7 linked regions of the Homo sapiens genome follow. The protein of the gene in region 4 purifies or fractionates together with the protein of the main gene of each other region. This does not show direct contact. Each region holds a gene or a part of one and is shown on either strand. Other genes may lie near its edges.

The links.
Region 1: the proteins of SLC3A1 (region 4) and PLAT purify together in Homo sapiens (affinity purification with mass spectrometry; one large-scale study listed by BioGRID and IntAct). This does not show direct contact.
Region 2: the proteins of SLC3A1 (region 4) and TXNDC5 purify together in Homo sapiens (affinity purification with mass spectrometry; one large-scale study listed by BioGRID and IntAct). This does not show direct contact.
Region 3: the proteins of SLC3A1 (region 4) and UGT8 purify together in Homo sapiens (affinity purification with mass spectrometry; one large-scale study listed by BioGRID and IntAct). This does not show direct contact.
Region 5: the proteins of SLC3A1 (region 4) and ATP6AP2 purify together in Homo sapiens (affinity purification with mass spectrometry; one large-scale study listed by BioGRID and IntAct). This does not show direct contact.
Region 6: the proteins of SLC3A1 (region 4) and DIPK1A purify together in Homo sapiens (affinity purification with mass spectrometry; one large-scale study listed by BioGRID and IntAct). This does not show direct contact.
Region 7: the proteins of SLC3A1 (region 4) and PON2 purify together in Homo sapiens (affinity purification with mass spectrometry; one large-scale study listed by BioGRID and IntAct). This does not show direct contact.

Annotation. Positions count from the first base shown.
Region 1 is NC_000008.11:42,200,803-42,205,289, forward strand, and holds part of PLAT (tissue-type plasminogen activator isoform 1 preproprotein), read right to left. Parts: intron 1-4,487. UniProt on the Homo sapiens protein: Converts the abundant, but inactive, zymogen plasminogen to plasmin by hydrolyzing a single Arg-Val bond in plasminogen.
Region 2 is NC_000006.12:7,896,729-7,901,215, reverse strand, and holds part of TXNDC5 (thioredoxin domain-containing protein 5 isoform 1 precursor), read left to right. Parts: intron 1-1,534; coding exon 1,535-1,640; intron 1,641-4,487. UniProt on the Homo sapiens protein: Protein disulfide isomerase of the endoplasmic reticulum lumen involved in the formation of disulfide bonds in proteins. Can reduce insulin disulfide bonds.
Region 3 is NC_000004.12:114,604,728-114,609,214, forward strand, and holds part of UGT8 (2-hydroxyacylsphingosine 1-beta-galactosyltransferase precursor), read left to right. Parts: intron 1-4,487. UniProt on the Homo sapiens protein: Catalyzes the transfer of galactose to ceramide, a key enzymatic step in the biosynthesis of galactocerebrosides, which are abundant sphingolipids of the myelin membrane of the central nervous system and peripheral nervous system.
Region 4 is NC_000002.12:44,305,831-44,310,317, reverse strand, and holds part of SLC3A1 (amino acid transporter heavy chain SLC3A1), read right to left. Parts: intron 1-4,487. UniProt on the Homo sapiens protein: Acts as a chaperone that facilitates biogenesis and trafficking of functional transporter heteromers to the plasma membrane.
Region 5 is NC_000023.11:40,597,875-40,602,361, reverse strand, and holds part of ATP6AP2 (renin receptor precursor), read right to left. Parts: intron 3,682-4,487; coding exon 3,628-3,681; intron 2,771-3,627; coding exon 2,621-2,770; intron 1,601-2,620; coding exon 1,481-1,600; intron 1-1,480. UniProt on the Homo sapiens protein: Multifunctional protein which functions as a renin, prorenin cellular receptor and is involved in the assembly of the lysosomal proton-transporting V-type ATPase (V-ATPase) and the acidification of the endo-lysosomal system.
Region 6 is NC_000001.11:92,954,380-92,958,866, forward strand, and holds part of DIPK1A (divergent protein kinase domain 1A), read right to left. Parts: intron 1-4,487.
Region 7 is NC_000007.14:95,404,117-95,408,437, forward strand, and holds the end of PON2 (serum paraoxonase/arylesterase 2), read right to left. Parts: intron 2,953-4,321; coding exon 2,871-2,952; intron 2,132-2,870; coding exon 2,003-2,131; intron 1,373-2,002; coding exon 1,214-1,372; 3' UTR 746-1,213; downstream 1-745. UniProt on the Homo sapiens protein: Capable of hydrolyzing lactones and a number of aromatic carboxylic acid esters. Has antioxidant activity. Is not associated with high density lipoprotein.

The sequences.
Region 1 (4,487 bases), on a different chromosome or scaffold from region 4:
CTCACTGTCTATGTGACACCCAATTGTAACTTTTTTTTTTTTTCTGAGATGGAGTTTCACTCTGTTGCCCAGGCTGGATTGCAACGGTGCAATCTCAGCTCACTGCAACCTCCGCCTCCTGGGTTTAAGCGATTCTCCTTCTTCAGCCTCCCGAGTAGCTCGGATTACAAGTGTGTGCCACCATGCCTGGCTAATTTTTGTATTTTTAGTAGAGACAGGGTTTCGGCATGCTGGCCAGGCTGGTCTCGAACTCCCAACCTCAGGTGATCTGTCCACCTTGGCCTCCCAAAGTGCTAGGATTACAGGCGTGAGCCAACACGCCTGGCCATAACGTTCTTAATGTGTTCCACATGGTATACGACAGCAGAATGCCACAAAGAAGGGGCGTGGTCACTGGATTCTCAACCTGGAAATCTAACTGCATTTACAGCACACATTCTGTGTGGGCAACTCACTCTCTCTGAGCCTGTTTCCTGGTTTTTGTCATGGGCTAATCATTTCCGTCTTGCTGAATTGTAAGGTAACTGGAAAAGAAGCAGGAAAGTCCTTCCCCCACACCTGGGTGCACGGCAGGAGCGACCTGCACCTACTGTCATGAACATCCTTCCTCAACAAAAGCACTGAGGCTTCCCGCTTCTCCCTGGAACAACTTGAAGCTGCTGATGCAGAAGAGATGCCACGCTTCATGGGGTCCTCATGGATCCCCGTTAATACTGAATCCTGCTTCCTAGATCATCCGACCACCTGTGTTAGCCTATAACCAATTCTCTGCAATTGATGTAGAATTTTGTGCCTTCATCTGTGTTCGTAGAACAGTATCAACAGGAGCCATTATTTCCTGAATACAGGGTGATGTCTTTAATCTGGTTTTTAATCTGCTTTTTTATTTGCCTTTCCCACACCATGCATGCAGAGGCCACTGTGGACTCCCAGCAGAAGCCAGAACTAGCAGCTGAGATGACACAGCTGAGACATCAGGCCATCTCTATTGATAAGGCCCATCTGACCAAGCCACACTATGAAAGTCAGAGGCATCATGTGAGAGAAATAAGGAAATTGGAGCTTCCCAGAAAAAAACCCTTCGCTTTCTCTCAGTAGCCCAGGTGTTAGACACCGGCTCTTGCTACAACAAGATAAAATACAACGGGTTTCTCTTTTTGGTGAACATGACAGAAAGAGAATAACCAGCAGAAATCAAGTTGACCAGTAGTCTCTCTTTCTTATTTATTTGTTTTGAGACAGGGTCTCGCCCAGTCACCCAGACTGGAGTGCAGTGGCGTGATCACAGCTCACTGCAGTTTCAACCTCCCTGGCTCAAGTGATCCTCTCACCTCAGCTTCTCAAGTAGCTGGGACTACAGGTGCGTGCCACCATGTCTGGCTAATTTTTTTTTTTTTTTCATTTTTTTGTAGAGACAGAGTCTTCGCTATGTTCAAGACCCGGGCTGGTTTCAAACTCCTTGGCTCAAGCAACCCGCCCACCTCGGGCTCCCAAAGTGCTGGGATTACAGGCAGGAGCTGTGTGCCCGGCCTCTGTTAGCTCATCCATACTGGGTTATCGGGTTTAGCATCCCCTCCCAGTCCCTGTCCCCTGCCTTCTGGAGACTCAGCTGAAATAAAAACTGCCCACATCAAGAGTCCCATCTATGGGGCTGGAGAAGCTGCAGGGATGTCCTCCTCCCAGCGCCTACCAGACCCCCACCCTGCCCCCCCAGCCCTCAAGCACCCACATGAGCTGCTTCTCTGTTAAGCATTCACAGACAATGATCTACCCATGCTATATATTCACCATCAACGTGTATGGAGCACCAGCCGTGCCCTGGCACAGGCTCTGGTGATGCAAAGACACAGCTCTTATCCTGAAAGAGCTCATAGTTAGGAAGGGGCCTGATGAATAACTAGACACTCAGGGTACAGCAGAGCAGCGCCATACCACGCAGCAGGGTGGGGACGGGGGTGGGCTTGGAGTGGAATGTGGAGGAGGTTGTCCATCCCAGGCTTGTTGAGGTTGGGGTGGTCAGGCAGGCTTTCTGGAATGCATAACACAGAAGCTGTTCCGGGAACACACGAAGGAGTTAGGCAGACAGTGAAGGGGTCTGCTCCAGACAGAGCACATCCCCACGGCTTGGCTCTGGGCCACAGCAAGCACAGAGCCCCCTACCCATCAGCACAGCTCCCGACAGCAGGCAAAGGTGACAGTCGCCCCCGGGCTCTTCTGCCAGGGTGTCCTGGGAGGACGTGTGCTTTGGAATCTCTGAGTGTTCTAAGGATCTAGGGGCCTTTGTAGGAGTCCAGCATGGATTCTCTAATGCCTAGCTGTATGTTAATGGAATAGTTGTGACTACATAAAAAAAACAAAAGGCTCTCAATACACAGGTCTCCTGGTATCTGGGTTCAGCCTAACCTGGAAGTGATCACTTCAGAGGCTCCAGGTGGAATCAGATCTTCTGATCAATCCTCAAAAAAACTTCCCTAAGCCACCAGTGCGTGTGTCAGGAGCATCGCGTGGTCACCCATGCACATCGGCTGGGCCTGTTAGCCAAGTCGCTGCTGGGTCTTGGCCATTGGTGTGTGCAATTCACAGCCGGGCAGCTGCTGCAGACACCCAGTCATATACTTGTATAGGAAGAACAGCTGGCTAGCATTTCCTGGCAGCCATGATCAGCACCACAACTCAGGCAAAGTTGAGTTCAAAAATGTTTCTAAAACACTTGCTGTGTGCCCAGCACCTGTTTCATCTTCACTCTGTCACAGGTGTTATTTTTGAGTGGATCAAGAATTGGGTTTATCTGTCCCTCTATCCCATTCTACAGAAGTTTCCCAAGTGGCATACATAGAAAATATTTTTTGAATATATAATATGCAAAATATCACTAAGAGGGACTGGGCACAGTGGCTCTTGCCTGTAATCCCAGCATTTTGTGAGGCCATGGCAAGAGGGTTGCTTGAGGCCAGGAGTTTGAGACTAGCCTGGGCAACAAAGCAAAACTCTGCTTCTACAAAAAAATTTTATAATTAGCTGGATATGGCAGCATGCCCCTGTAGTCCTAGCTACTTGGGAGGCTGAGATGGAGGATCACTTGAGCCCAGGAGTTTGAAGGTTCAGTGACCTACGATCACACTGCTGCACTCCAGCCTGGGTGATGGAGTCAGACCTTGTCTCTAAATTATATATATATATATATATATATACACACACACACACACACACACACACACACACACACATACAAACACATATTGCTAAGAGAATGTGCTGTCTTTTTATGTAAGTAGAAAACTGAGCCACTATCGGAAGACCATGTGGCTTGACTTAGGGTTGGAGCAGGGTGGATGAGCTTTAAATTTATTTCTAGCTCTAATTTTCTTTGAGTCTAAATCATCCTCACTCTTTTACCTGGTTTGATGTGAGACCCACCATATGGTTTTGTGAGCTGCTTGACTAGGACGAGGTTTATAGCCTGACACTATAGACAGACATTTTCTCCCGTATATACAAAAGAAATGGCCCCAAGAAGGAATGAGCAGAATGCACTGGTCCCTTATTGTCCGTCCCAACAATCTCATCAAAGCAGAAGCGAAAATCACTCAGAGAAAGTAAAAAATTTATTCTGAGACTGCAGGTGCATAATGCCAAATAATCAAAGAAAAACCTGTCTGGGCATGGTGGCTCACGCCTGTAATCCCAATACTTTGCGAGGCCAAGGCGGGCAGATCACTTGAGGTCAGGTGTTCAAGACCAGCCTGGCCAACATGGTGAAAACTTAGCTGGGTGTGGTGGCGGGCGCCTGTAATCCAAGCTATTTGGGAGGCTGAGGCAGGAAAATCGCTTGAACCTGGGAGGTGGAGGTTGCAGTGAGCCAAGATTGTGCCACTGCACCCCAGCCTGGTGAAAAAGCGAGACTCCATCTTAAAAAAAAAAAAAAAGAAAAGAAAAATTGGCCGGGCATGGTGGCTCATGCCTGTAATCCCAGCACTTTGGAGGAGGAGGGCAGATCACGAGGTCAGGAGTTCGAGACCAGCCTGATCAACATGGTGAAACCCTGTCTCTACTAAAAATATAAAAATTAGCCGGGCGTGGTGGCTTCAAGTGACACTACCAAGGTATGAAAGGAAAATAAATCTCAAGACCCCCAAATCACTAAGCCAAAGGGAAAAGCCAAGCTGGGAACTGCATGAGGCAAACCTGCCTCCCATTTTATTCCTACATAAGACGGCTACAAAGATAAAAGGCTACATACCTCTCTCACAATTTACCCACAAGGAAACTCCTTGTGGACTTCAAGATCTTTACCCTAAAACAGTTCTGCTGAACTTCACCTTGGCAATGCAAATGGGTACAGGACAAAGGACAGAACTCAAAGTCATCCCTCTGCTCACCTGAGACAAACGCATATCTGATTGCTTCCTCTGCCCTATTGTTTTTGTAAAAATGAAGATTCAGGCCAGGCATGTTGGCTCATGCCTGTAATCCCAGCACTTCGGGGG
Region 2 (4,487 bases), on a different chromosome or scaffold from region 4:
AGTTGCTTATCATGTTGAACTTCGTGACGTAGCCGGTGTACTGGCCAAATCTAGTTAAGTTTTGGCTGTTTTTTGTGGTTATGAGAGTCTGAGCTGCTGAGGAAGCTGGGTGTATATTCTGCACTGGAGACACATTAGGGACCCTACCTATGCCCCATCATACCATCTTAGGTTCTGGGTAAGGCCAGTATGCTGATACTAATTTCAAAGCCTAATCTAGCCATGTGACTTCATTTTAAGGAGAATTAGCCATTTTTTTTTGGACTGAATGTGTGTGTACCCCAGCATTCATAGGGGAAATCCTAATCCCCAATGCTGGCAATAGGAGGTGGGGCCTTTGAGAGGGAGCAGGTTATTAGGGTGGAGCTCTCATGAATAGGGTTGCATACCTTATGAAAGAGGCCCCAGAGAGTTCTGTTTCCCCTTTTGCCATGTGAGGGCACAGCAAGAAGACACCATCTGTGAACCAGAAAGCCCTCACCAGACACTGACTCTGCTGGCACCTTGATCTCAGACTTCCCAGTCTCTAGAGCTAGGCGAAATAGATTCTGTTGTTTCTAAGACACCCAATCTGTGGTCTTCTGTTACAGCCGTTGAACTAAGACACTATTCAAACCTTCATGTCAGATTTTACATATGTTGCCGTCTTACAATTCTGATACCGTACATTGGGCATTTACTCACAAAATCCACATACGCGCTGTAGAAGTGGCAGGGGTGTTTAGATGAGCAGGCTTGCTAACAAATGGTACTCTGTATTTCTTTTTTCTTCTATTGGTAGTCACATTTTTGCCTATCCTTGACACCTTCTATGAATTTTTATCTAGAGTATTAGAGCACGTTTTCCCGTGACTGCTGGAGGGATACAGGAACTGAGTGTTAATTTCATCCTCTGGTGATGTCTTTTGCTTATGGTTAAAGGACCTACTCCCGTATCCTCTCTGCAGATTCCTTCAGAGGCCAACATTTGTAGGAAAAAGAAAAGATTCCTTCTCTATGGGAAGGTGAATGGACAGCATCAGTCAATGTCAAGGATGTTCTTATAGCTGGAAACTTGAATTCTCACAGTAACTGGATATTCAGGCCTTGTAAGAGTTGAATACCTGCCAGGTGGCCTGGAAGAATACCTTAATTGCAAAACAACACCGTGTCTGCTCCAGTCCTAATTTGAACACAGACAACAACTGCTGAAGCCGGGAAAGCATAACAGTAGCTTGCAGGGAAGGCCCGAGGCTGCTGCAGAGGAGCACTGAGTACTGTAGCTTTTGAGGCCTCAGTCACAGCAGCGGGCTGGAAGTTTTCACCTCATTTTAGTTTTCCTTGAATAAAACCAGAAACTTCTGAAAGTTTAGGATTAACTGAATGTATTATCTCCTGGAACGTTATGTTTGTTTCCTTTTTATCAGAGAGGAGCAGATACATGCCTGGCTGCAGCCCCTTGACAGCTCATTTTCTGATTGTTTCACTAAATGAGTTTGCTCTCTGATAAGACAACTTTCTTTTTGCTCTGTCTAATCCTTTGTTATTCTTTCAGCTTAAAGCTTTTCAAGCCAGGCCAAGAAGCTGTGAAGTACCAGGGTCCTCGGGACTTCCAGACACTGGAAAACTGGATGCTGCAGACACTGAACGAGGAGCCAGTGGTGAGTGTCTACCTCCTTCCCTCCCTCCCTCCCTCCCTCCCTCTCTCCCTGCCTACATCTTTGGGGTAATATGTAACGGGGCAGAGGCCAGTTGAGGTTAATGATTAAGGCTGCCATTTTAAAGCAACTCTACTTTTTTTGGAGCTTATTGGTATTACAGGTAAAGATGAACTTTTACAGAAACTTTTTGGTGTGGAAATACCTAAATGTGCACAAAAGTCAAGAGAAGGCTAAACCCTGAGTTTCAGCAGTTACCACCATTTTGGTGTTTGTCTTCCCCACCACCCTGCGCCTTGTTTGGCTGTAGTCAGTCTTCAGGGAAGTCACTTGTGTGGCCTCACAGATAAGCACTTACTCTTTGTTAACACTGCCACCCTGCCACTGTCACAGGTAATACAGTTCACAACTGTACCCCAGCATCAGAGACTGACTCTGGACCACCTGGGGTCAGGGCTGGGCCCAGCCTAGAATCTCCTATCCAAGCCAGCACTGGAGCCTCCTCCCATCCCCCCGACCTTTGCCCTCCACCACCTGCAGCCCTCTGGCTCGGGCCTAGCCCGACAGCTGTACCCGTAGGGTGGATCCTTCCTTTTCTTCTCGGTGCTCAGTCCCCGAGTCTCTAATGGGCTTTGCTTATAACATCATTTTGTACCATTAATACTCTGTGTCTTAATGCACTTCCCTTACTAAGGCTAATATCAGGAGATTGTAGACTCTTAGAATATTATGTACTAAAAAGGATTTATAATCCTCCCCCTCCCCAGTTGATGTTGGAAGTCTTCACTTTTTTATAAATCATCATGATCATAAACCACTGGTTAAGTGTTCCTTTGTGGGTGGTGCCTTCTGATTAATGCCGAGTGCTCAGGTCCCTGGATGCCGGGTAGACCTGGTGGGTCATGCTGCTGTGTTGGAGAGGGACTGGAAAAACACTCGTGTTCCTACACTGTAGGATCCTGATGAGCTAGGAAGAGCATCTGAAGTCTTTGTAATTTCAATTTCAACAAATACCTAAGACTACCTTCTTGTATCAGCTAAGCGCCCACTGATTTGAAGGTGGTCTGTGGTGGTCCTTTTGGAGCTTTGCCGCTTACTGTTGCCAGTTTCCAGTGTGTCTGTGCGGCTCTTCCGCTCTGCCCCATCTTCTCTGATGACCTAATCAGAAACTTGGCTGCTGATTCAGTGCTTCCATCCCTCACCTGCAAAGACTCTCTCAACTCGGCTGGGTGTGGTGGCTCATGCCTGTAATCCTAGCACTTTGGGAGGCTGAGGCGGGTGGATCACCCAAGGTCAAGAGTTCAAGACCAGCCTGGCCAACATGGTGAAACGTCGTCTCTGCTAAAAATACAAAAATTAGCCAGGTGGTAGGTGCCTGTAATCCCAGCTACTTGGGAGGCTGAGGCAGGAGAATCACTTGAACCCAGGAGGCAGAGGTTGCAGTGAGGCGAGATCATGCCACTGCACTCCAGCCTATGCAACAGAGCAAAAACTATCGTGGAAAAAAAAAAAAAACTCTCTGAACTGTATGGTGGAGACTGTTGGTGTGTGATGTTATGTCGTTGAACCAGAGACTTACCTAACTTTAGCTAAAAGAACCACAGACCTCTCAGGAAATTTGCATCTTTGTCCTGGCAAGAAAGCTGAATGAGCAGGTGTGACTTTCATAGTTTTCAATTGGACATTGTTTCCTTTGTGAAAATATTCTCTTTGTGGGGACACATATATTGGATGGTAGCAAACCAATTTTAAGGAGGAGTTAATAGCCTCAAATAAATTTCACCAAAAAAGCCAGTCTTCTATGATGGCTTTATTCAAGAAACCAGCAGCCAGTATCAGGACGGCAGAAAGACCTCATCTCATGGCCCATTTCCCTTAGTGGAGGTGGCGGCCTCACCTGCAGGTTGGAAAGGGCTGAGAGGCTGCGTCCAGGCTCTGCAAGGGACTTTCTGTCTCCTCAGTGTGGGAGCAGGATGGCCGCGTGTAATCCCCCCATGCCACCCCAGAACCACAGTCACCAACTTGCCATATTTTAGTGTCTCCAGCAATAGCAGGCCCCAGATAATTGCCAGAAACAATGACAATGCGCCTTATTGTGGAAAAGTTTAAGTATATACACTTTATACTGCAAACCAGAATTCTCTTAGCTTTTTAAGTGAAAACTTTAAAAAAAGTTCTTTATCTGTATACCTAAGTAACTTAGTACATACATTTTTTAATATTCACGTGGGATAAATTTAGATTTTTTTAAGTGTTGTGGCAATATTCAAGAAACTCAAAAGACAATTTGTCACTTTGTACATTCTACTGCAATTTTTGTATTTCCATGTTTGCTTCTGTATTTTTTCTTGAACAGTTATACAAACATGTTTCATCTCATTAATGATTTTATATATTTATGTGGTCTTTATGTTGATCATGTCTTATATTATTTTATCATGTGGATTTGCCATAATTCAACTCTAATTCTGTCAGTGGATATTTAGGTTATTTATACCTTTTCCATCATCAGTAATGATGTAGGGAACAAGTTTATCTTTGTAAAGGACTTTCCACCCCCCCTTCTTTTGAGTGATATTTTTAGAATATAGTATTCCCAGACATAAAATTATAAGGCCAAGAATAAAAAAAAAGATCATTTTTATGGCTCTTGATGAATATAGCCAGGTTTCTTAAGCACCATATCAGCTTATGCTGCCACTGTAGGGCAAGACGTGACCTGTTTCTGGGATGCACTGTGGTGTTCCCATGCCGGGGGACTGCTCTGGAGTCTGCCAGGAACCCAGGAAGCAACTAGAGGCCCCGCATGTGCCATAAATGAACACTTCATACTGAAAGGCCCTTGAACAT
Region 3 (4,487 bases), on a different chromosome or scaffold from region 4:
ATAATAAATATTTGTTGTCCCAATACATGTTTGTTGAATAAAACAAAATTAGATATTCCATATTTTTAAGATGAAATGAATTTTATATCTGTAGTTTTAATATTTAATCATATTCTTTACCTGAAAATCGCTAGCCATACTTTTCGTTTTCAGCACTTCTCTATTTTGCAGTTGTGTTTCAGTGCTTTTTTTTTTCCCACTGTGCTTAGTCCTTCACGATTTATGGCCCTGTTATTTGTAAAGCATAGTAATCTAAGCAGGTGATTTTCAGTTTAGGATTTCTTCTAGTTCCATGTTGTATATTCACCAAGTCAGTTTTAGACTATATATTGTCATGCTCAGCACTCCCTTACAGAGATAACAGATGCCAAGTTGAAATTGACTTATACAGAATGCCACACTTAGGTAAGTGTTTAGGAGTGCATAGCCAAAATAAAAATGGTACCTTTGGTTTATGAATGGCAGGGCATCTAGGACAGTGTAGGTCAGTTCGTATTCTCTGGATGGACATTTATGTAAATATTAAAACATTTAGATTAGATGGAAAGATGTATAGTAGGAACATTTCAGAGATACTGTTTCCTTGTAGCATTGTACTATTTATCTGAATTGTTAATTTGGAATAATCACTATATTGATTTTATTTTGAAGATATAATTTATTTCCATTGACTTGATATAAATAACAGAAATGCATCTGCAAGGAATCCAGTTCATTAAAGAAATTTACATTCGTATCTGATTTGGTAAATATGTGCTTGATTTGGGAATATTATATAACAAAATATTTGTGAAATCATTTTGTACTTTTTAATTGTTTTGAAGAAATTTAATACTCAAAATATTTCAAGACACCAAATCATGACTTTTTAGTTATTACATTAAGCTATAACTTGCTTTAATGAGTAAAAACTGTGGGGCTAATTTTCTTCCAAGTGAAACATCAAGTTTAAATAATGTGCACATGAATTTACAAAGTAGAATCAAGTGTGCAAATATGCTATATGTTCTGTAATAGGTTCTTGAAAAGCTGTATATAAACTCAGCTTTTATAAGTTGAGTCATATTTATAGAATAAGAAAATAGGGCAAACATTTAACACTTCTTAAATATTAAGTGATGGGCATACAGATGTTTGTTATGTTAATCTTTATATTTTTCTGTATGTTAGAAATAGTTTACAGAAAAAAATTGTGGTTAGTGACATTAAAGCACATTATATATTAAATATACTCAGGGACTTTGAAATTTAAAGCAATATCAACATACAATTTACCATAGAAAAAATCCTATTCTGATTTTATTAATACCTGTTTTGCAAATTCAGAATTTTTAATGGGTTTAATTAAGCAGATACACACACAACAACAACAACAACAAAAAACTTGGACACACTTCTGTAACACATCTTGAATATAGTCTCATCTGTTGGAATTTTTTAAACTTCTACACTTAAGTCTTAATCTGATTCTCCCTCATCCTCATAATATTCATTATTCAGAGGAGAGGCATCAACAGGAAGAATTCAATTTTACTTAAATAAAAATTTTTTACTAGCAACGGAATGAGTGATTCAGTGGTGGTGTCTTCCTGCTTTGAGAGAGCTGTTCTAAGACTAGGCAGTTAGTCTTAGGCCTAAGACTAGGCAGTTAGTCTAGGGGCTCCACAGCAGGCCCTTCCTCTGGGTTCTCTTTATGAAGAAGGCCTTTGTGTTTTACATAGATTTTGCATTTGTGCTGCTGTCCCTATTGAGTTGTTCTCACCAAGCCAATCTGGGGAGTAGCTCTTAGGGGAAAACTAGTCAAACAGGTTTGCCTGTCTATTCAAAAGGAGGGAAGAACGGTGAAATGTATGGATAAAGGCCAAGAGTAAAACTGTTTTAAGTAATATTCATGCTAATCACTGACTGTTGGTTTTGAAAATACTTTGTAGACATTTGTGAGAATGTATCTTAATGGAGATAAAGTAAGAGAGAAACTGGAAGGGGAAGTAGTTTAGAAGCAGGGGATAAGGACAAGATGGGGAGAAGGAAGGGAAAAACAATGGAGGCAAAATAAGCTCAAGAAGGAAAGAATAGTGTTTCAGTGTCATATCTGGGCTTTATGTAAACTGGGTGTGTTATAGCAGGAAACCATGGTATTGATCTGAGAATGAATTTAATTAAAACAAACAAAAAACCCCCACATGCCTGTGATCCTCAATGTCCAAAATAGGGAGCGTCTTGCCAGGGCAGGGCTGAAGTTTACTAGGAATATTGGTGGGAAAATGTTATAGTTAACCATCTCTGATACTAATCTTATATTAGAGATAATACTTGGTTTCCCCTAGTAAAGTGTTAGAGTCATACAGCTTTATTGTAGTTTGCAAATCTATTACACATATATTTCTACTGTTTAGTTCTCATTCTGCCCCTGAAGCATAGCCCTATAGGTAGTAGCATTTTACAGCTCATAACTTGGTAGAGTCCCAAGTAACCTTTGGAAGTCAAAATGACAATCCAGTCTGGGGAATTTGATGTTAAAACTAAAGCTTCTTGCCTAGAACAAGTTTTGGAACTATAGCTCACCACCTGCCTCATGTTCTGGGAATGCTGAACCTTGATCCCACTGAAATTACCTTTAAGTAGTCTTTCTGTAGTCCTCAGTAATCTCCTCCTTTGCTCCATGCTTCTTCCCTGCTCCTTGAGAGTTCCTTCTCCTTTCTCATCTGTAATGGTAACTCCCCATCTGATCTTTGGTTGTGCCTCTTCTTCCTTCCTGGCATTTTTATTAACATCTTTTGTCCCAGCACCTCTCCTCTTCTCTATTCTCACTCCTTTGGTGTAGTTATTCATGCCCATAGACTGGATTTTTATTTATATATAGATGATTCAAAAAGCTGTATTTCTAATTGTGATTTCTTCTATACTCTCAAGAGCTTAGAGTTCCCAGCTCAACTTCCTAACTCAGATCTGACATCCCCATTTGCCTCAGTCTTCGAAGACAGATTTTGGTGTTGTGGAATTCACTTTTTTACCCTTTATATCTAATCTATTCCTAATTGATCACTATGTCCTTCATGAAGACCTTCTTCCCTTGCCTGAGTCTTTCCATTCACCTCCTGATGTCTTGGTGTAGTCCCACATCACTTCTTCACCAGTGGTACTAAATGACTCATTTTCACCATTACCTGGGCCTTCCATCACCTCCTACTGCCCACAACCATCAGTCACTTGTCCTTACTGACCCACTTGCCTTCTTTGAGTGTGATTTGACTATGCGTTTATTTTCACATGGGGATCCAAAATTTTTAGCATGGCTTTCGAGGCTGTCTATTGTCTAGCTGCTTTCTGATCAGACTTATTTATTTTCTCATATTGCTCAATAGGATTCTATCCTGTTTACCCACTGGGGCATTCATTTCAGGATATCCCCCCGCTTGAGATGTCCTGCCTTTTTTTTCTTCTGCACTTCCAAATTCTCACCCAAGGTTTTGACACTCAAGTCCCACCTCAGACTGTGGCTTCCCAGTCTCTGTCACTTTTCTGTGACTTTGATTTGTACATATATTGATGTTAGCAATTAGGTTTCATTCTCCCTCTAAGGAGAGTATGAACTCTTAGAGGGTGGAGTCTCTTGTCTCCTCATACACCTTGGACAAACACTATTGATCAGAGAGAAGATATTCAAACATGATTGAATGGTATCTTTAGTTTGTCATGAGGCAATAAGGGTAAGTTTCCTAATTTTCTATACGTATTTTGATTTTTTCCTGTTGTTTTTTCCAGAACTGCATCATTCAAACTTGAAACATTCCCCTATTTTTTTTTAACAAGGTGTTCTATATAGGAACAACATATCTTATAGGGATTGCTACATTATTTAGTCACAATGGAAAAAAAAGTTTGATATATAGAAAGATTATATAATAGTTACATGGAACTCTACTATAAAATTATAATGGTTTAGTGGGTTTTCTTTTTTAAATTTACCTGGGGCTTCTATAGGTGGATGTGCATTCACAACTAATTCTAGGTAATGCTAATAAAAGAAAATAATCACGGTGATAATTAACTGTATTTAGTTTTTATTTTGTATTTACATTTCAATGTAAGTATGCCTAATGTCATGAAACCATAGTTGGAGAAAATAATGATTATATGCATGAGGAAGATAACTTAGGAAGCATTCTAATTGTCCAACTCCCCACTTCCCCATAGACCTTTTATAACAATTAAATCAAAGCACCAGCCCAGGAATAATTCTTTTTTCCATTCTTTGTGCCTATTTCCTCCTTTGATAATTGCTGAATTCTTCTGGTCAGAATATCTCCCTTTCCATCTCCCTCTGAGCAGAGCAATAGGAATAGGAATATATTTTAAGCCAGGTGAAGTGGTGCAGGTCTGAGGTCCAGCTACTCTGGTGGCTGAGATGGGAGGATTGCTTGAGGTCAGGAGTTGAGGCTCAGGCTGTAGTGTGCTGTGGAGATCGTGCCTATGAATAGCCATTG
Region 4 (4,487 bases):
GTGTTGGTGAGGATGAAAAGAAATTGGAACCTTCGTACATGGCTGATGGGAATGTAAAACGGAGAAGTCACTATGGAAAACAGTTTGGTAGTTCCTCAAAATCACAGAAGTACTATATGATCCAAGGCTGGGCACAGTGGCTCACACCTGTAATCCTAACACTTTAAGGGCCAAGGTGGGAAGATCACTTGAGCTCAGGAGTTCAAGACCAGCTTGGACAACATGGCAAAACCCCATCTCCACAAAAAATACAAAAATTATCCAGGTATGGTGGTATGCACCTATAGTCCCAGCTACTTTGTGGGAGCTAATGCAGGAGGATTGCTTGAGCCCAGGAGGTCAAGGCTGCAGTGAGCCATGTTCACACCACAGTGCTCCAGCCTAGGTGATGACAAAGTGAGACCCTGTCTCAAAAAAAAAGCCTGGGCACAGTGGCTTATGCCTGTAATCCCAGCACTTTGGGAGGCCAAGGCAGCAAATCACTTGAGGCCAGGAGTTCCAGACCAGCCTGGCCAACATGGTAAAACCCCATTTCTACTAAAAATACAAAAATTAGCCAGTCATGTTGGCACATGCCTGTAATCCAAGCTACACAGGAGGCTAAGGCATAAGAATTGCTTGAACCCAGAGGCAGAGGTTGCAGTGAGCCGAGATCATACCACTGCACTCTAGCCTGGGTGATACAGTGAGACTCCATCTCAAAAAACAAAACAAAAGAAGTATTATGTGATCCAGCAATTCCACTCCATGGTATAGATCCAAAAGAATTGAAATCTGGGGCTTAAACAGATACTTGTACACCATTGGTTTGTAACATTATTCCAACAGCCAAAAGGAGGCAAAACCACAAACGTCACCAACAGATGAATAGATAACGTGTTACATAGGTACCATGGAATGTTATTCAGTCATAAGAAGGAGTAAGATCTCATACATGCTATTGTATGTATGAAGGAAAGTTGAAAACATTAAGCTAAGTGAAATGAGGCAGACACAAAAGGACAAATATTGTTATGATTCCACTTATATGAGGTACCTAGAATAGGCAAATTTATAGAGGCTGAAAATAGAATGGAGGATATCAGGGGTTAGTGGTGGAAGTGAGGAATTATTGTTTAGTGGGTACAGATTTTCTGTTTGGGATGATAAAAGTTCTAGAAACTGATAATGGTGATGGTTGTACAACATTTTGAATGTATTTAATGCATTGAATTACACACTTTTGAATGTTTAAAATTGTTTTATGTATATTTTGCAATAATTTTAAAACAAAAAATTCCTCAGAAGGCCAGGCACAGTAGCTCACGCCTGTAATCCCAGCACTTTGGGAGGCTGAGGCAGGCAGATCATGAGGTCAGGAGACCGAGGCCATCTTGGCTAACACGGTGAAACCCCGTCTCTACTAAAAATACAAGAAGTTAGCCAGGCATGGTGGCAGGCACCTGTAGTCCCAGCTATTTGGGAGGCTGATACAGGAGAATGGCATGAACCCGGGAGGCGGAGCTTGCAATGAGCTGAGATCACACCACTGCACTCCAGCCTGGGCAACAGAGCAAGACTCTGCCTCAAATTAAAAAAAAAAAAATTCTTCAGGAATTCACAATAAACTATTAGAAACGAAAAACAAGTTCAGCAATGTTTTAGGATACAAGATCAATATACACAAATCTATTGTATTTCTATACACTAATAATGAAGAATCCAATAATGAAATTAAGCAAACACTTCAGTTTACAATAATATCAAAAGAACAAAATACTTAGGAATAAACTGAACAAAAAGTCTAAGACTTGTACAATGAAAAATACAAAACATCATCAAAAGAAATTAAAGACCTAAATAAGATACATCTGTCTTCATGGATTAGAAGACAAGATGGCATGATTGCCAAAAATGATAAACAGATTCAATGCAATCCCTATCAAAATCCCAGTTGGCTATTCTAAAATTTATATGGAAATCCTAAAATTCACATGGAAATATAAGGTACCCAGAACAGCTAAAACAATCTTGAAAAATAACAAAGTTGGAGGACCCATACTTCTCTATGTCAAAACTTACTAAGCTACACTAATCAACTCAGGGTGTTCAGGCATAGAGACAGACATATAGATGAACAGAACTGAGAGTCTGGAAATCTAATCAACTGATTTTCTTTTTTTTGTTTTGTTTTACATTTAGAGACGGGGTCTCACTCTGTCACCCAGGCTGGAGTTCACCCTGGAGTGTAATCATGGCTCAAGGCAAACTTGAACTCCTGGGCTCAACTCCCACCTCAGCCTCCCAAAGTGCTGGGATTTCAGATGTGAGCCACCACGCCCAGCCTACAATCAGTTGATTTTTCAACAAAGATTCCATGATAATCCAATGAAGCAAAGAATAGTCTTTTTAGCATGTGGTGCTGGAATAAATAGACCAGGCAATGGTTTCTAATATAACACTAAAAGTACAAGTAACAACAACAACAAAACAACTGGACTTCATAAAAATTAAAAACTTCTGTGCTTTTCAAGGGACACTATCAAGAAAGTGACATGAAAGCCCACAGAATGGGAGAAAATACTTGCAAATCACCTATCCAGTATATATCAGGAATTCTTACAACTAAACAATAAAAAGACAACCAAATTTAATTATAGGCAAAGAATCTGAACAGACATTACTCCAAATAAGACATGCAGATGTCCAATAAGCACATGAAAATACCCTCAACAAAATTAGCCATCAGGGAAATGCAAAAAAAAAAAAAAAAATGCAATGAGATAACAACTTGACACTCAGTAGGAAGGCCATCATCAGAAAGGCAGACCATCACAAGGCTTGATGAGATGTGGAAAAATTGGAACCCTCGTAACATTGCTGGTGGGAATGTAAAATGGAGTAACTACTTTGGAAAACAGTTTGGCAGTTCCTCAAATAGTTAAATGTAGACTTACCATATGCCCAGTGGAGCAATTCCACTCCTGGATATATATCAGAGAGAATTGAAAACATGTTTTTATAAAAACTTGTACACAAATGTCCATAGCATCACTATTCGTAATAGTCCAAAAGTGAAAACAAATCTCTGTCAATTCATGATCAGATAAACAAAATGGGCTTTATGGAAGTTACTATTCAGCCATAAAAAGGAACGATGTACTGAGACATACTACAACATGGATAAACCTTGAAAACACTATGTTAAGTGAAAGAAGCTAGACACAAAAGTCCCATATCGTATAGCTCCATTTATATGAAATGCCCTGAATAGGCAAATCCATAGACACGGAAAGTAGGTGAGTGGTTGCCAGAGACTGAGGACAGAGAGGGAGGGGCCATGCGCAGTTATTGCTAGTGGAGATGTGGTTTATTTTGGGGGTGATGAAAATGCTCTGGAATGAGACATTGGTGATGGTTGCATAATTCTGTGAATATACCGAAAATCCACTTAATTATATACTTTAATAACGGTAAATTTTGGCTGGGCTCAGTGGCTCACACCTGTAATCCCAGCACTTTGGGAGGCCAAGATGGGTGGATCACCTGAGGTCAGGAGTTCGAGACCAGCCTGGCCAACATGATGAAACCCCGTGTCCCTACTAAAAATACAAAAAATTAGCTGGGTGTGGTGGTGGGCACCTGTAATCCCAGCTACTCTAAAGGCTGAGGCAGGAGAATTACTTGAACCCAGGAGGCAGAGGTTGAAGTGAGCCGGGATCACACCACTGCACCCCAGCCTGGGTAACGAGCAAAACTCCGTCTCAAAAAAAAAAAAAAAAAAAAAAGTTTTATGGTATGTGAATTATATCTCGACAAAGCTGTTATTTAAAAATTGTATAGTTTTAATACTTACATTTAACAAATTAAAGCTTTTACCATGCCTAAAAATTTGAGCCTCTTTCCCCTCACCAGACGGAGAAAGGCTCTGGCAATGGAAACACACATTCCTGCCTATTAAAGCATCAGAAAAGATTGAAATAAGCTTAATTGTGGTTCACAGATTCTGCCAGTGTTTTTCTGCCTAGGCTGCATTTTCTCCTTTATCCTTTCAGGTTTTCATCAGGCTGTGTAAGATAGCTGGCAGGATCTGTGCGAAAAGTATCAAAATCATACCACTTTTCAGGGCCCAGATCAAACCTACAGGTATTGTGGGGGTACAACAGAAGATATTGACTAGTGTAAGGCAACTCTCTCTCTATATATAAGGCACACCTTTGGTAAGTCGCTGAACTGCATACGAATAACAACAGCACCAGTAACAAACAAACCCTGAGCCTGAGCACCTCCGTGTGAGGTGGGCACCGTGCAAGGATGCTGGGAACCTGCCTCTGCCCTTAACCAGTGAACTGTCTAGTGGGGAAAGCAGACATCGTGGAATTGTGTGGACTTTAAGGAAAGAGAATGAACGGGTGCTATAGTATACAATAGGTAGACCTGACACCTCATTTGGGGGCTCCAGAAGGCTTCCTGTGGTGACACCTACCTGAGACCTAAACGATGAGACC
Region 5 (4,487 bases), on a different chromosome or scaffold from region 4:
CTTTATTTACTCTGTAAGAGAATTTCCCTTTCTTGCGAGCTGAACTATGTATTTTTATTTTTGTAATTTTTTTTTTATTTGAGACGGAGTCTTGCTGTGTCTCCCAGGCTAGAGTGCAGTGGTGCAATCTTGGCTCACTGCAACCTCTGCCTCCCGGGTACAAGCAATTCTCCTGCCTCAGCCTTCCAAGTAGCTGGGATTACAGGTGCCCGCTACCACACCAGGCTAATTTTTGTATTTTTAGTAGAGACGGGGTTTCACCATGTTGCCCAGGCTGGTCTAGAACTCCTGGCCTCAGGTGTTCCGCCCGCCTCAACCTCCCAAAGTGCTGGGATTACAGGCGTGAGCCACCACACCCAGCCCAAACTATGTACTTTTTAAAAGATCTTTATTTTTATCTAGCATTTCTAGACGTTTTATGGTGGGAAATCTTGGGTGGTTGTCTAGACTGACATGCTGTCTGAAACAAAGGTCCTTCCATCCCCAATTTAATTTAGAAAGAAACAATCTCAAACCAGTAATCGCTAGACTATCTCAAACAGGCACTGGCTTCGACCTTCCGACTCCAAGTCCCACACTGACTTCAGTAAAACTGAGCAGGGTGAGGGCTGCAAATGGGTCTGAAGCGGAGGTGTATGTAATTGAGTGGATATCTATCTGCTGCAAGTGATACAGCCAGCCCTAAGCAATGTTCTCAGACGTAGGATGTTAGGGAGCATCTACACTACTCTTTCCCATCACCCTCCCTAGGTTCTGCTGCAGCTGTAAGTATATATGTATGTATGTAAATGTGCACGTACATACACATAAACAGATATGTATTTTACCATGGCCAGCAACCATGGTAATGCTTAACCCTGACCCTCTAAATGCTTAAAATCAAAGCAAGATCCATACCCAAAAAAACTGTTAAGTAAATCAAAATCATAAAGAGGTGCACACAGAGGATCTCAGTAAGTGAGGGACTACGCCACAAAGACAATGTGCCTGCTAGAAAAGCAGAGCCCATAGGATGTGGGCACCACACCACTCCCGCACACATTCACTTCTTTTTGTTTTCAAAACAGGGTCTTGCTATGTTTCCTCAGACTGGCCTCAAACTCCTCCTGAGCTAAAGCAATCCTCCTGCCTTGGCCTCCTGAGAAGCTGCAATTACAGATGCACGCCACTGCACCTGGCGCCACATTAACTTCTGATATCTCCTTGTGTGTACTGATATTTGAATTATAATCTTGGACAGATTTACTTTTATCCCTAATTCAAATTCTTGCATTATCTGATTATAACCCTAAAGAACTGATCATCACTGGCAAAGCACACATATGTATGTGAACAAGAAGCTTACGTTTTAACTGAAATTGTTTTTCAGATTTACTGACTGCTCATTCATGTCACCCTTAGGTGATATAGGACTTGGTTTTTTTTTTTTTATAAGAAGTTAATTTTACAGTTTTAAAGCAGGATCTCAAAATATACTCACCGCTTGTTTTGCCTCAAGGATAGTCCTTGTCTTCCTAATGAGGGAGGTGTCAAATGACTTGACAGTGACTAACTCTACCACTGCATTCCCACCATAAAGACTGTACATGTCATCTGCAAACTGAAAGTTAGTTATTAACATTATTGGGAATCTCAACTATGTACTTTTTTCATTTTTAATTAACAAATTAAAATCATATATATTTATCACATCAACATATTGTTTTGAAATATGTACACATTGTGGAATGGCTTAAGTCCACATTGGCTAATTAACATATGCATTACCTCCTACTTATCATTTTATGCAGTGAGTCAAATACATACTTATTAAAATTATTTTTAAAGCTTTTGTGCAGCTACAAGAACAATGTACACTTACCTCCTGGCTCATGAAATATACTACATCTTACAATAAGCAAGTCTTAAAGGTTTTGATTTTGCTCAACTATACAGAAAAGTGTTAAGCTTTAACATATATTCAAATGTTTAGACTAAAATTACTTTAAGAAGAGACTGAATTTGTCAGCATATAAATTGGAGGAAGGGAAGTTGGAAAGAGAAATGAAATCTTCCTAAGTGGTCTCTGGTTAATCACAAACATCTATAAAGATTAAAATATGAAGCCTCACTGAAAGGATGCAGGTGAAGAACTTCAAGGGCAGAGGGGAACTAGCATTTATTATGCATCTACTGTCTGGTACTGTGCTGGGTGTTCTACTTCAGTTATCTCATAGTGTTTAAGGAGTACAGAGTTTCAGTTGGGGAAGAAGAAAAAGTTCTAGAAATAGAAGATGGTGATGGTTGTACAACATGTGAACGTACTTGCACTTAATACCACTGAACTGTACAATTAAAAATGGTTAAAGTGGTAATTTTATGTTATATATATTTTACCACAATAATTTTGTAAAGCTTTGTGTGAGATAACTTTTCCTAATGCTGTTCTTTCTAGCATTAGGAAGAAATATATCAATATACATTTTTGACCCTACTCCATCCTTGGCCAGTATAATTAGAGGAGCCCCAAAGAAGGCAAATAAGAGTTCAATCAACAGTGTTTGAAACAGCAGATTTTTCTATTAAGAGGCTAAAAGTGAAATGGTCATACTCCAACCTCTCATGTCGCATTGATATTTACCTTTTGCAGAGCGTCAACAAGGATCTTAGAAGCATCTCTGAATTGTTCAGAGTCTTCCCCATAACGCTTCCCAATTTCATCCAAACCTGCCAGCTCCAGTGAATATAAATCAGGAGAATGATCCTTGGCTAGATGCTTATGACGAGACAGCTTAGGAGAACAAACAAACAAAAAAAGGTAGCGGATAAAGTAAGATGAAAGACGTCAAACACAGCCAGTTAAAGTTTTATGCCTAACTAAACTAGGCTAAACTAAACCATACCAGTGTACCACAACATGCAAATAGTCTAAAATGGTGGCAAAAGAAACTGGTTTGAATAAGCGTTTCTGATAAATCCAACACGAATCTCATGTTTAGGAGCAGTACAAGACTCCTTGGATATTTAATAAAAGCTTTCAACAAAATTCCTCAGTTTTAAAAACTCAGGTATGGGCCAACGTATGAAAGAACAGATGGCTGGACCAGTTTGATCCCAGGAATGCACTACACTTCCAGACTCCCCGAACCAACACCTGTTGAAAAAGTTTGGAAAACAACTTCAGAAGGTAGCAAACAGATAAGAATTTCTATTTCAGTAACAAGGATGATTTTTAAAAAATCATTCACCAAAAAAATACCCTTCAGACGGATTTCGTCCCTTCTTGACTTGACTGACAGCATTATTAGTCCAAACTATTATTTCTATTTTAGGCCCAAAGATATAGATAGGAATTAAGTCTCACAAGAAATCAACAGCCAAGTTAGGACTATGGCCAGGGTGTTCTTACGCCCAGGCTTGTGTTCTTGGAAGATATGTTGTCTCTCCCTAAAAAGCAGAAATGCAAAATAATTTGACTATAACATGGATGTGTTCAAAATTCCCAATATTGCCACTAATTTTTCAATTTTCATGGGATCATAAATCTAGGGCATACTTAATCAAACTTTTCAACTGCCTTTACTATTATTCAAGGATTCTCTAGAAACCAAAATAAATGGAATTAAAAAATTAGAGCAGCCTACTTACCAAGCTTGAAATATCATGTAGCACTTGCAGTTCAGAAAGAAAGAGCAGGTCAACCTTCAGAGAGCCCAAAAAAAAAGAGCATTCTTTTAAATGTGCACCAGAGATCTTTATTTGCCATTTACCAAGCAAGGCACAGGATATTACAAATGTTGATCATATAAGTGAATTTATATAATTATCTTCCATTTGGTATGTTTGCTTCAATTGAAAATGCATATAAAACATTATTTCCTAACAAAAAGGTGATGGCCATTCCCTAGCACAGTGACTGCCACTCAATAGCTATATTTTTGGCAAAACCATGATAAAGCATCCAAGTTCTCCAGTGGTTTTCCTTCAAAGCATCAGGATATCCTGGCACTCTGCAATGACATCCTACCATTGGCCCAGTTTGCTCACTTCCCTTGAATAGTTTCCACATCAGAGAATAAAGGATGATGGCCCTGGTCATCCACAGCAAATAAAAAGGGGAGGCCACCACGAAAGTGGCATGCCACATGGTTAAGAGGGCGCATGAGCAGATGGAGAAACTGAAGGACAGGAGTCAAAAGTAGAGGTGGCTCCCTCCACTGCAATGTCCAGAATGAATGAGAAAAATGTGGCAACAAATCAGCAGAGGCAGTGAACAATGGCTTCCAAGTTACCAGATCCACACAGCTCCACCAGTCACCAAGTAGATCTATGACCTCTGGCTTGTTTGAATTAATAGGTGGCAACCCTCGTGCTAAAATGTGATGTTATTTACCACAGCTCAACTCACAAAAAGGATCAGTTTATTCATGAGAGTCATAAGAAAATTACACTAAAGAAGAATCTACCCCAGCAGTAAATGTGCACAATCTTTCATTTTCTAAAATAGC
Region 6 (4,487 bases), on a different chromosome or scaffold from region 4:
TTTTTTTTTTTGTTTTGAGACAGAGTCTCACTCTGTCACCCAGACTGGAGTGCAGTGGCGTGATCTTGGCTCACTGCAACCTCCAACTCCCGGGTTCAAGCTCTCCCACCTCAGCCTCCCAAGTAGCTGGGACTACAGGCACATGCCACCATACCCGGCTATTTTTTGTACTTTTAGTAGAGACAGGGTTTCGCCACATTGGCCAGACTGGTCTCAAACTCCTGACCTCAAGTGATCCACCTGCCTCAGCCTCTCAAAGTGCTGGGATTACAGACGTGAGCCTCCGTGCCCAGCCGACAACACCTTACCTCTTCAATCAGACAATGTAAAATGATGGTATTTAACAGGATGATATAGTGTTGCTTTTAGAAACAACTTTTAAAAATAAAAACAATAAAATGTACCTAACTGCTACAAAAAAAGAAAACTTTCATGGAGAATAAAAAATAATACTATAATCCATCAAGATGAAAAACTGGGGCACTCCACAAAAAAACCTGCACACAGATGTTTATGTAGCAGCCTTATTCATAATTGCCAAATACTGGAAGCAACTAAGATGCCCTTCAGTAAGTGAATGGATAAACTGTGGTACACCCAGACAACGAAATATTATTCAGCGTTAAAAAGAAATGAGCTATTAAGCCATGAAAAGCCATAGAGGAGACGTAAATGCATATTACTAAGTGAAAGAAGCCTATTTGAAAAGGCTACCTAAAATACTACGTGATTCCAACTAGATGACATTTTAGAAAAAGGCAAAACTATGGAGACAATAAAGACCAGTGGCTTTTGGGGGCTCAGTGGGGACAGAAGGATAAATAAGCAGAGCACAGATTTTTAAGGCAGTGAAACTACACTCTATACAATAATGATGGATACATGTCATTATGCATTTATCCAAACACACTGAATGTACAACACAAAGAATGAACTCTAATGTAAAACTATGGACTTTGGGTGATAATACGTCAGTGTAAGTTCATTAACTGTAAAACATGTACCATTATGTGGGGGATGTTAAATATAGGGGAGGGGGCTGGGCACGGTGGCTCACGCCTGTAATCCCAGCACTTTGGGAGGCCAAGGCAGGCAGATCACGAGGTCAGGAGATCGAGACCATCCTGGCTAACACAGTGAAGCCCCGTCTCTGCTAAAAACACAAAAAATTAGCCAGGAGTGGTGGCGGGCACCTGTAGTCCCAGCTACTTGGGAGGCTGAGGCAGGAGAATGGCATGAACCTGGGAGGCAAAGCTTGCAGTGAGCTGAGATCGCACCACTGCACTACAGCCTGGGTGACAGAGTGAGACTCTGTCTCAAAAAAAAAAAAAAAGAAAAGAAAAGAAAGAAAAAAGAAAAAAAAATGAAAATAGGGGAGGGGCCAGGCACAGTGGTTAATTCCTATAATTCCAGCACTTTGGGAGGCCAAGGCAGGAGGATCACTTGAGCCCAAGAATTCAAGACCAGCCTGGGCAATGCAGTGGGACCACTGTCTCTTAAAAAAATATTTAAATTAGCTGGACTTGGTGGGATGTGCCTGTAGCTACTCAGGAGGCTGAAGCAGTAGGATCACTTGAGTATGGGAGGTAGAGGCTGCAGTGAGCCATGATTGTGTCACTGAACTCCAGCCTGGGTGACAGAGGGAGATCCTGTATCAAGAAGAGAAAAGAAAAGAAGAAAAGGGGAAAAAAAAGAAAAGAAAAGGAGGGAGGCTATTCATGTGTCAGGACAAGGGGTATATGGGAAATCTCTCTGCATTCCTCTCAATTTTGCTGTGAACTTAAAATGGCTCTAAAAACTTTTAAATCTTTAACTTAAAAAAAAAATCTGAGGCACTGAGAAGACTACAGTGAAGAAACACTTTTACTGTATGGTCCAGTTTGAAAGAAATGTGGTAAGGATGCAATCTGCCTGAGAATTCACCATTTCTTTGAGCTTCTAACAAAGGTTCAAAAGCAACTAATGGTAATATCAAGTGGCTCTCTGTACACATACCAGTCTCAGAAAGCTAATCATAGTTCTGGAGATTAAATTTCAGGCAAAGGCAAAAGCTAATCTCTGAACAGCAGGTCTAATAAAGTTAATGAGAACTATACAAACTACAGATCTTCTCCCTCTATTGTCTTTGGAGGATAGAGAACAACCATAGGCTCTAATTATCCTTAGATTTAAAATAATCCTGGAGACTGAAAATGGGCAAAAAGCCCATTTTTACTACAGTATTTGGCAACATTACTACTATTACCAATTAATCTGTATCAGTAACCCTGTCTGGCACTAAATCTCACAAAATATCCACATTAACTCATAAGGAACCAAACCATCCACAGCAGTCATGTTTGAAAAATTGTACTAATACGAGCCAAAGTGCCAGGTATCAGAAATGTTAAACAAGTGCAAACACCCTAGCTAGAACATGCCATCTACCCATTCACTCATAACAACCCTACTGAACACATACTGAAATTGCTAGGGCAGTCATTTTCAAGAGGATACTTCTAAAACTTTAAGCCCCTTACAAGCAAAACGGCTTGAAAACCTTCAAAGGACCCAAGTACATGGGACTTCAAATTCCATTAGAACTGCACCAACTTTTCATATGCAACAGAACACATAGGCAGAATGATTGGAATGGAAAATGTGTATAATCTAAGTACAGAGAATTATGCTGAATTGTCTTGACTTTCATTCTTTCAGGACTTAACGATGGTGAGAAGGAAGAAGGTATTTTAAACCAAAACCAACAAATTATAGGGTTGCTGTGTTATCAGCTTCACTCAGACTATGAGTAAACCCTAAACAAAGTAGATCTTAGTTTGTAGAAAACACACTGCTAAAAAAAGACAAATGCAGGTGTCATTCTGGGTTATCACACCCAAGCAGGCCACAAGTAGTATGCACCATAATGGCACGTGGAAGAAAATACTGCCTAAAAATGGTTTAAGCAGTTAATACATCCACAGTTTCTGATCTCAGAGGCAGGATTCTACTCTGTTCAATGTGCTGCATCATTTAGCCAGTCCAGGAAGTGTTATTTCCCAAGTAATGTTTCAACAAAATATCTGGAAAACATGGAACTGTAAATTAGCTTGCTTGCTCTGGGCAAGATGCCTTGCCATGAGAAGCTTGTTGCTCAGGTAAACGTCTGTTGGCCCTTCCAGGCAGGTCACAAGTCCTTCTAGCCCACAGAGAGGCTGCACAGACTAACAGTGTGCCTGCCCAGCTCCCCTGGAAGAAGTGCTCCCTGCACCAAAAAGCTGACCTTGGTGGAATCTGCAGCAAAAGGCAGAGAGAAGAAGGACGACTTTCATGAGATAAACTCGGTTCATTTATTTTTCAACTGTTTTATGGAGATATACTAATAATTCACATATCCTACAATTTATTCATTTAAAGCATAACGTTCAGTAGGTTTTAGTATATTCACATACTTGGGCAACCATCACCACTATCAATTTTAGAACATTTCTGTCCCCCTCAAGAACACTTCATATCCATCAGTAGTTACTCCCCATTTCCCCCCAGGCAACCACTAATCTATCTTTTTGTCTTTATAGATTTGCCCATTCTGGACATCTCATATGAATGAAATAATACGTGATCTTTTGTGACTAGTTTCATATATTTAATGTTTTTAAGGTTCATCCATGTTACAGTGTGTATCAGAACTTCATTTCACTTTATTGCTGAATAATATTCTGTTGTATGCATATACCACACAAGTTCTTTTCTTCACAGGCAGTAGAATCTCTTCTGCTATATAAGCAAAGCTATAAACAGTGAATAGGTGCCTGCATTAGCTCATGAATGTCTATTATGGCTGAAAATATATCATTAATTGTGTAATGCCACAGTTTTCCAAAAGCGTTACCAAATGCCACAGTGATATCTGGATTAATAAAAATACTGAGAATGAAGTTCCTTTACAAGTAAGCTGACTGCTTAAAAGTTTTCTCCTGTACACTGCAGAAAAAAGGGAACTCACAGCTCCTAAGGCCTGAACACCTCAGGACATAACTGGTCTTTGACCCCATCCAGTTAAAGACAAACAGCATAACTGCAAGTATACAAAGCTGGTCTCTGCAACCTTTCTCTCCTCTTCCTGGCCCTCCATCTCTTCCCTCTATCTGTGAAATAAATCCAACTTCTTCCTGTACTCTTACCCTTCCCCTCCCCCCAAACAGAACAAGATCTCTTATACCTGCTGAATAGTTATACCCTCACTCTAAATTAAAATAATACATTCATTCACAGGAAAAGTTACTTAAACCAGACATCTGTATTCTAAGACATTCTTTCAAAACATGAAATCAAACTAGTTTCCCTCATAAGAATTTGTGGCATGAATGAGCTGATAAGAGGAGGGTTTTTTGTTTTGCTTTTTGCAGAGAGACCCATCCAAATCACAGTAAACTCACTCCATGGCAAATCAAATTTAGTTAGTAATCTCAGGTTGATGCATATCTAGAAAGGGGTGGGAAAAATAA
Region 7 (4,321 bases), on a different chromosome or scaffold from region 4:
AATAAAATACTAGTTCGTTCTATGGCAGTAGCATCATGTAGTGGTTAGCGGTACAGGCTCTGGCATCAGAAATAGACTGAATATCTGTGAAATGTTAACAGTGATATAATATCAATACTTACTCCAGGCTGCAATTAGGATTAAATAAGATAACGAATGTAATACTTTCATTGCATTGTTTGGCATATTGTAATTAACTGACAAATATTTTCATGATGATGATAGGGAAAAAGTATGAGAAGTGAAGTAAAGTGGTTTGATAAATTACAATGGAAAGAAACACATGAAAGTCTCTCTCTAGGGCTTATGATGATTTTATAGGAGGTACAGTGAGCAGAAAAACTCTCCCTCTGTGAGCTGGGCACGCGGCCCTGATCCTAGCATTGCTGCTGCTTAACCATGTGGTCACGGACGACTGACTTCATTCTCCTGGCTTTAGTTCACAGTTCTGTTCAATGAGGAGGTGGCAAGACCTTCCTGTCCCAACCCTTATTTCCTCTTTGTCTCTAAAGTGGACTCCCATTAAGGAAGAGAGCTGATGGAAACCTCCTTAGGAACTGGGAATTTGAGTTGCAATATTTCATTGATTTTTGTTGTTGTTGTTTCAAATTAAGAGTCCATTCACTTTCAGCTTTCCACAAGAGAAATTAATATGGCCATGCTTGCCTATCCAAACTCCATAAGGAAGCAGCTGCTTTCCCATTTCTCCTAGCCATATGCCTTCAGAATTAAACACAGACAAAACTGGGATTTTAGTTAGTCTTTAATATAACTCCAACTTTTTAATGGTAAACAAAGATGTAAGTACAAAACATCAAAATACGTTATCAGTAGTTCTAAACAGCCATAGTAGTCACAGTGCCAGAAGTGAGGTCACTCACATTTTAAGGAAATATAATTCACTCTATTTCAGTGGAATCCATGTTCTGGCAGTTGGAAGGCAAAGGTGAGGCTTACTTTGTGCAAAATGTATTCACTTTATTCGAAAGCAGCTTTCTTTTCTGTCCCTTGCTTGGCATTTTAAAGAACCTGTTCATTTTCCTTTTTTGTTAAAAGTGCTCTAAGAACTAAAAGGGCCGTTCCTTACTGGAATAAAATTAACTACACATGCCATACATTTCTGGGTCAATGTTGCTGGTTAAATTCCCTCAGAATTAGCAATTCATAGAAAATTAATTGTTAAGTTATCGCACTTTCATGCCAAAAGTACAATTTAGAGTTCACAATACAAGGCTCTGTGGTATAAAGTGCCTATGAGCAGCTTCCCATCATACACTGAGGCTACAGAACTTCCTTGGAGAACAGACCCATTGTTGGCATAAACTGTAGTCACTGTAGGCTTCTCAGATAGAATGTTCTGGATGCGGAGAACCTATTCAGGGGATACAAAGTATGAATATAAGACCACCGTACATGCATGTCACTCAATCATCAATAAGCCCTGTTTTCCACAATGACACACTGATTAAGGGGACATGCTGTTGAAAATAGCAGTTACCAATCTTTTTAATGTTTAAATTAAAGTACTTTCTCCAATCTTCAAAGAAAGTACTTTCTTAAAACCATCTAGTTATTCCATGCCAACACAGGATTTAGTGTTATTATAGCAATTCAGCTTTAATAGAAATACTTTCATACTAATGTGCCTACTTTCACACTACTTCAACATGAACAAATATCACATCATGTGGTGAGCTGACAATAAATCAGATATTTTAAAAATTGCCAGTATACCACCCAAGAAGGGCACATGTCTTTATAAAAATGCCTTTTGACTAGTTTCCACCATAATTTAATACATCAAAAGATTACCTTTCTTAAAGTATTTGAACAATGTAACATTCTGCCAATTATTGGCTTAACGCAATTACAAAACCACGACATAAGCTTATTATATTATTGCTTTAAAATAACTAAACAAATCATCCCTGTGACAATTTATTGTATTATTAGTTCAAAAGGACTTGAATAATTAAGTTTAAAAAACTGAAAATATAAAAACCTCTGACGAGGGAGGATTGTTCGGGTCATACACGAAGAGCTTCTGGCCATTAGGATGACAGCCTACCCAGATGTCCCCCGAGGAAGGATCAATAGATAAATTATCCACCAGTGTATCCAGCTCAAGTACCTTCCAAATGAGAAATTGTCAAAATCTAAATGACATGAGAAACTTGATTAAATAATTTAGAGGTAACCTTCCTGCCTCTATGCATGTGAGGAAATTACACATCGCCCTGCTTCCACCTTCTAACACCAATATTGCTTAAAAGGAATGTATTAAAAACTGGTTTGGAGCCACTTTTCTTCTTCCCTGAAATTAAGAAAGTTAGGGTGATAATCGGTCTCTGTAAAAATCTATCTTAAAAACTGAACTCCTTTTCCTTTAAAAGATGCACAATGATCAGTTAGCTCAAGGAACTCAATCAAAGCAAGATAGGAAATTCTTAATCAACCTAAAATATGTGTTGTTGAGTAGGAAGAAAATAATAATGGTGTGGAACCCAATTTCTACCTTCATGTATTATTGAAAGAACTGACACTGTGCATAAACCTTCATTTGAGAATTCATCTATTAGTATTTTCAATTGTGAAAATTCTTATTGGAATTCTTCCACTGCCATCAATACTTCATGGAATGGGCCCTAAATCTGATGAATATCACTCTCAACCTGCTGCTGCATGTAATCATGGTCAGTTCTTGAGATCGCTGGAAACAGGAGCTTTCTCTAGTTGTAGGGAGTATTTAAAAACCCAGAATAGCTACACTGGCATCCATATTTTGTTCTACGTGTGGTACTCTTATAGAAAAACTATGTCATTGCAAAGCATAATAGATTACTGTCTATATGTAAAAATAAATATTTTACCTTCAACTGAGTTAAATTCATATTAGTGTGTTTTTCCAAAACATGAATTTCATGAGCCAATATGTCAGCAACATAGATATACCTTTGCAGAAAGGACACAGTGGTTAGAGCTCCATGCCAATATAAAGCTTCATTAATACAGTGTGAAAGAATAAGTCTTAATAACCTGCCAAGAAGTTAATCAATCATGGGCCCTCAAGGAATGCTTGATAAAGGTCAATTTTTATTTAAAAAGTAAGCTTTCAGAATCAATTCAGTGGTGCTACAACAATCATGGAATTATTAAATTGTTTTTCAAAAAGCTTGTAAGGAAAAATAATATAGAACATCATTTTGAATATGAAGTCCATATTTGCCACTGAAATGACAATAAAACAAATGCTTGGCTTCAGAAGAAAAGCTTTTACATTCCACAATATAATTTGATACTTCTAATTATCATGTACATATAGAAATATATGGTAAAGAACATCTTATTAAAATAGTGATCATTCCTTAATATTCAATAAAATATTTATTAATACATAGCGAATTTTAAGAGTAAGAGATAAGTATCAATGCAGAATAATCTGTCTACTTCAAAGGTGAGTGAATTAACAGACTATTTTGAGGTAATTTTACTCATTGAATTGACTTTCCATGGCACCTGCTCTGTTGAGCAATTATGTGTGAAAAGCCATGAACTCAGTGTTGCAGCAGATATAAACATGAAGAAGACACAGCCTCTCTCCTTGAAAGTTTATAGTGTGTTGGAACAAATCTCACTGGTTTGTACACATTAAACACCTAATAAGCATGAGAAATAGTTCAGGTCTAGAAATAGCTAACTTCCGAGGACACAGAAAGGCTCACCAAGGAAGGGGCATCTGCAGTGGCTGTGTAAAGAGAGATGAGATTTGAGATGAGGACGGAGGAGGCACTTCCCAGGCAGAAGCAAGCACAAGAGCAGAATCACAGGAGCAAGAAGAGGAAGGAATGTTTAAAACAATGAGTTCTTTGTCTAAAGCATAGAAAGCATGGAAATAGTAGAAAAGGGAGGTTGGAGGTGGCCTGTTAAACAAAGTCCAACCCTTTACCCTGCCTTGATTTGATAAGCAATTGGATTCCACTGAAATCTTAGAATAATAAAGTGGCAACAAATGGTCAGTTCTGTTCCACAATTCCTGAGCATTTGCTTTGTGCCTGGCACTGTACTGGCATAAGGAGTCAAAGGTGAGGAAGACAGAGTTCCCTCTTTGGGGAGCCCTTCAAGGCTAATAGAGATAGACAGACAAAATTGGCAAGAGTGAAAAAAATCCAAGTAGACAGAAAACAAATTGGAAGAAAGTCTCATATGCTAGTCAGAGAGGATGACAACCTAAATTAGGCAGGTCTCACTCAAAGGGAAAGGAGTTTGGGGGTAGAGGAAGGAGGCACAGGTAGAACCAACAGGACCTGCCTACAGGCTGGAT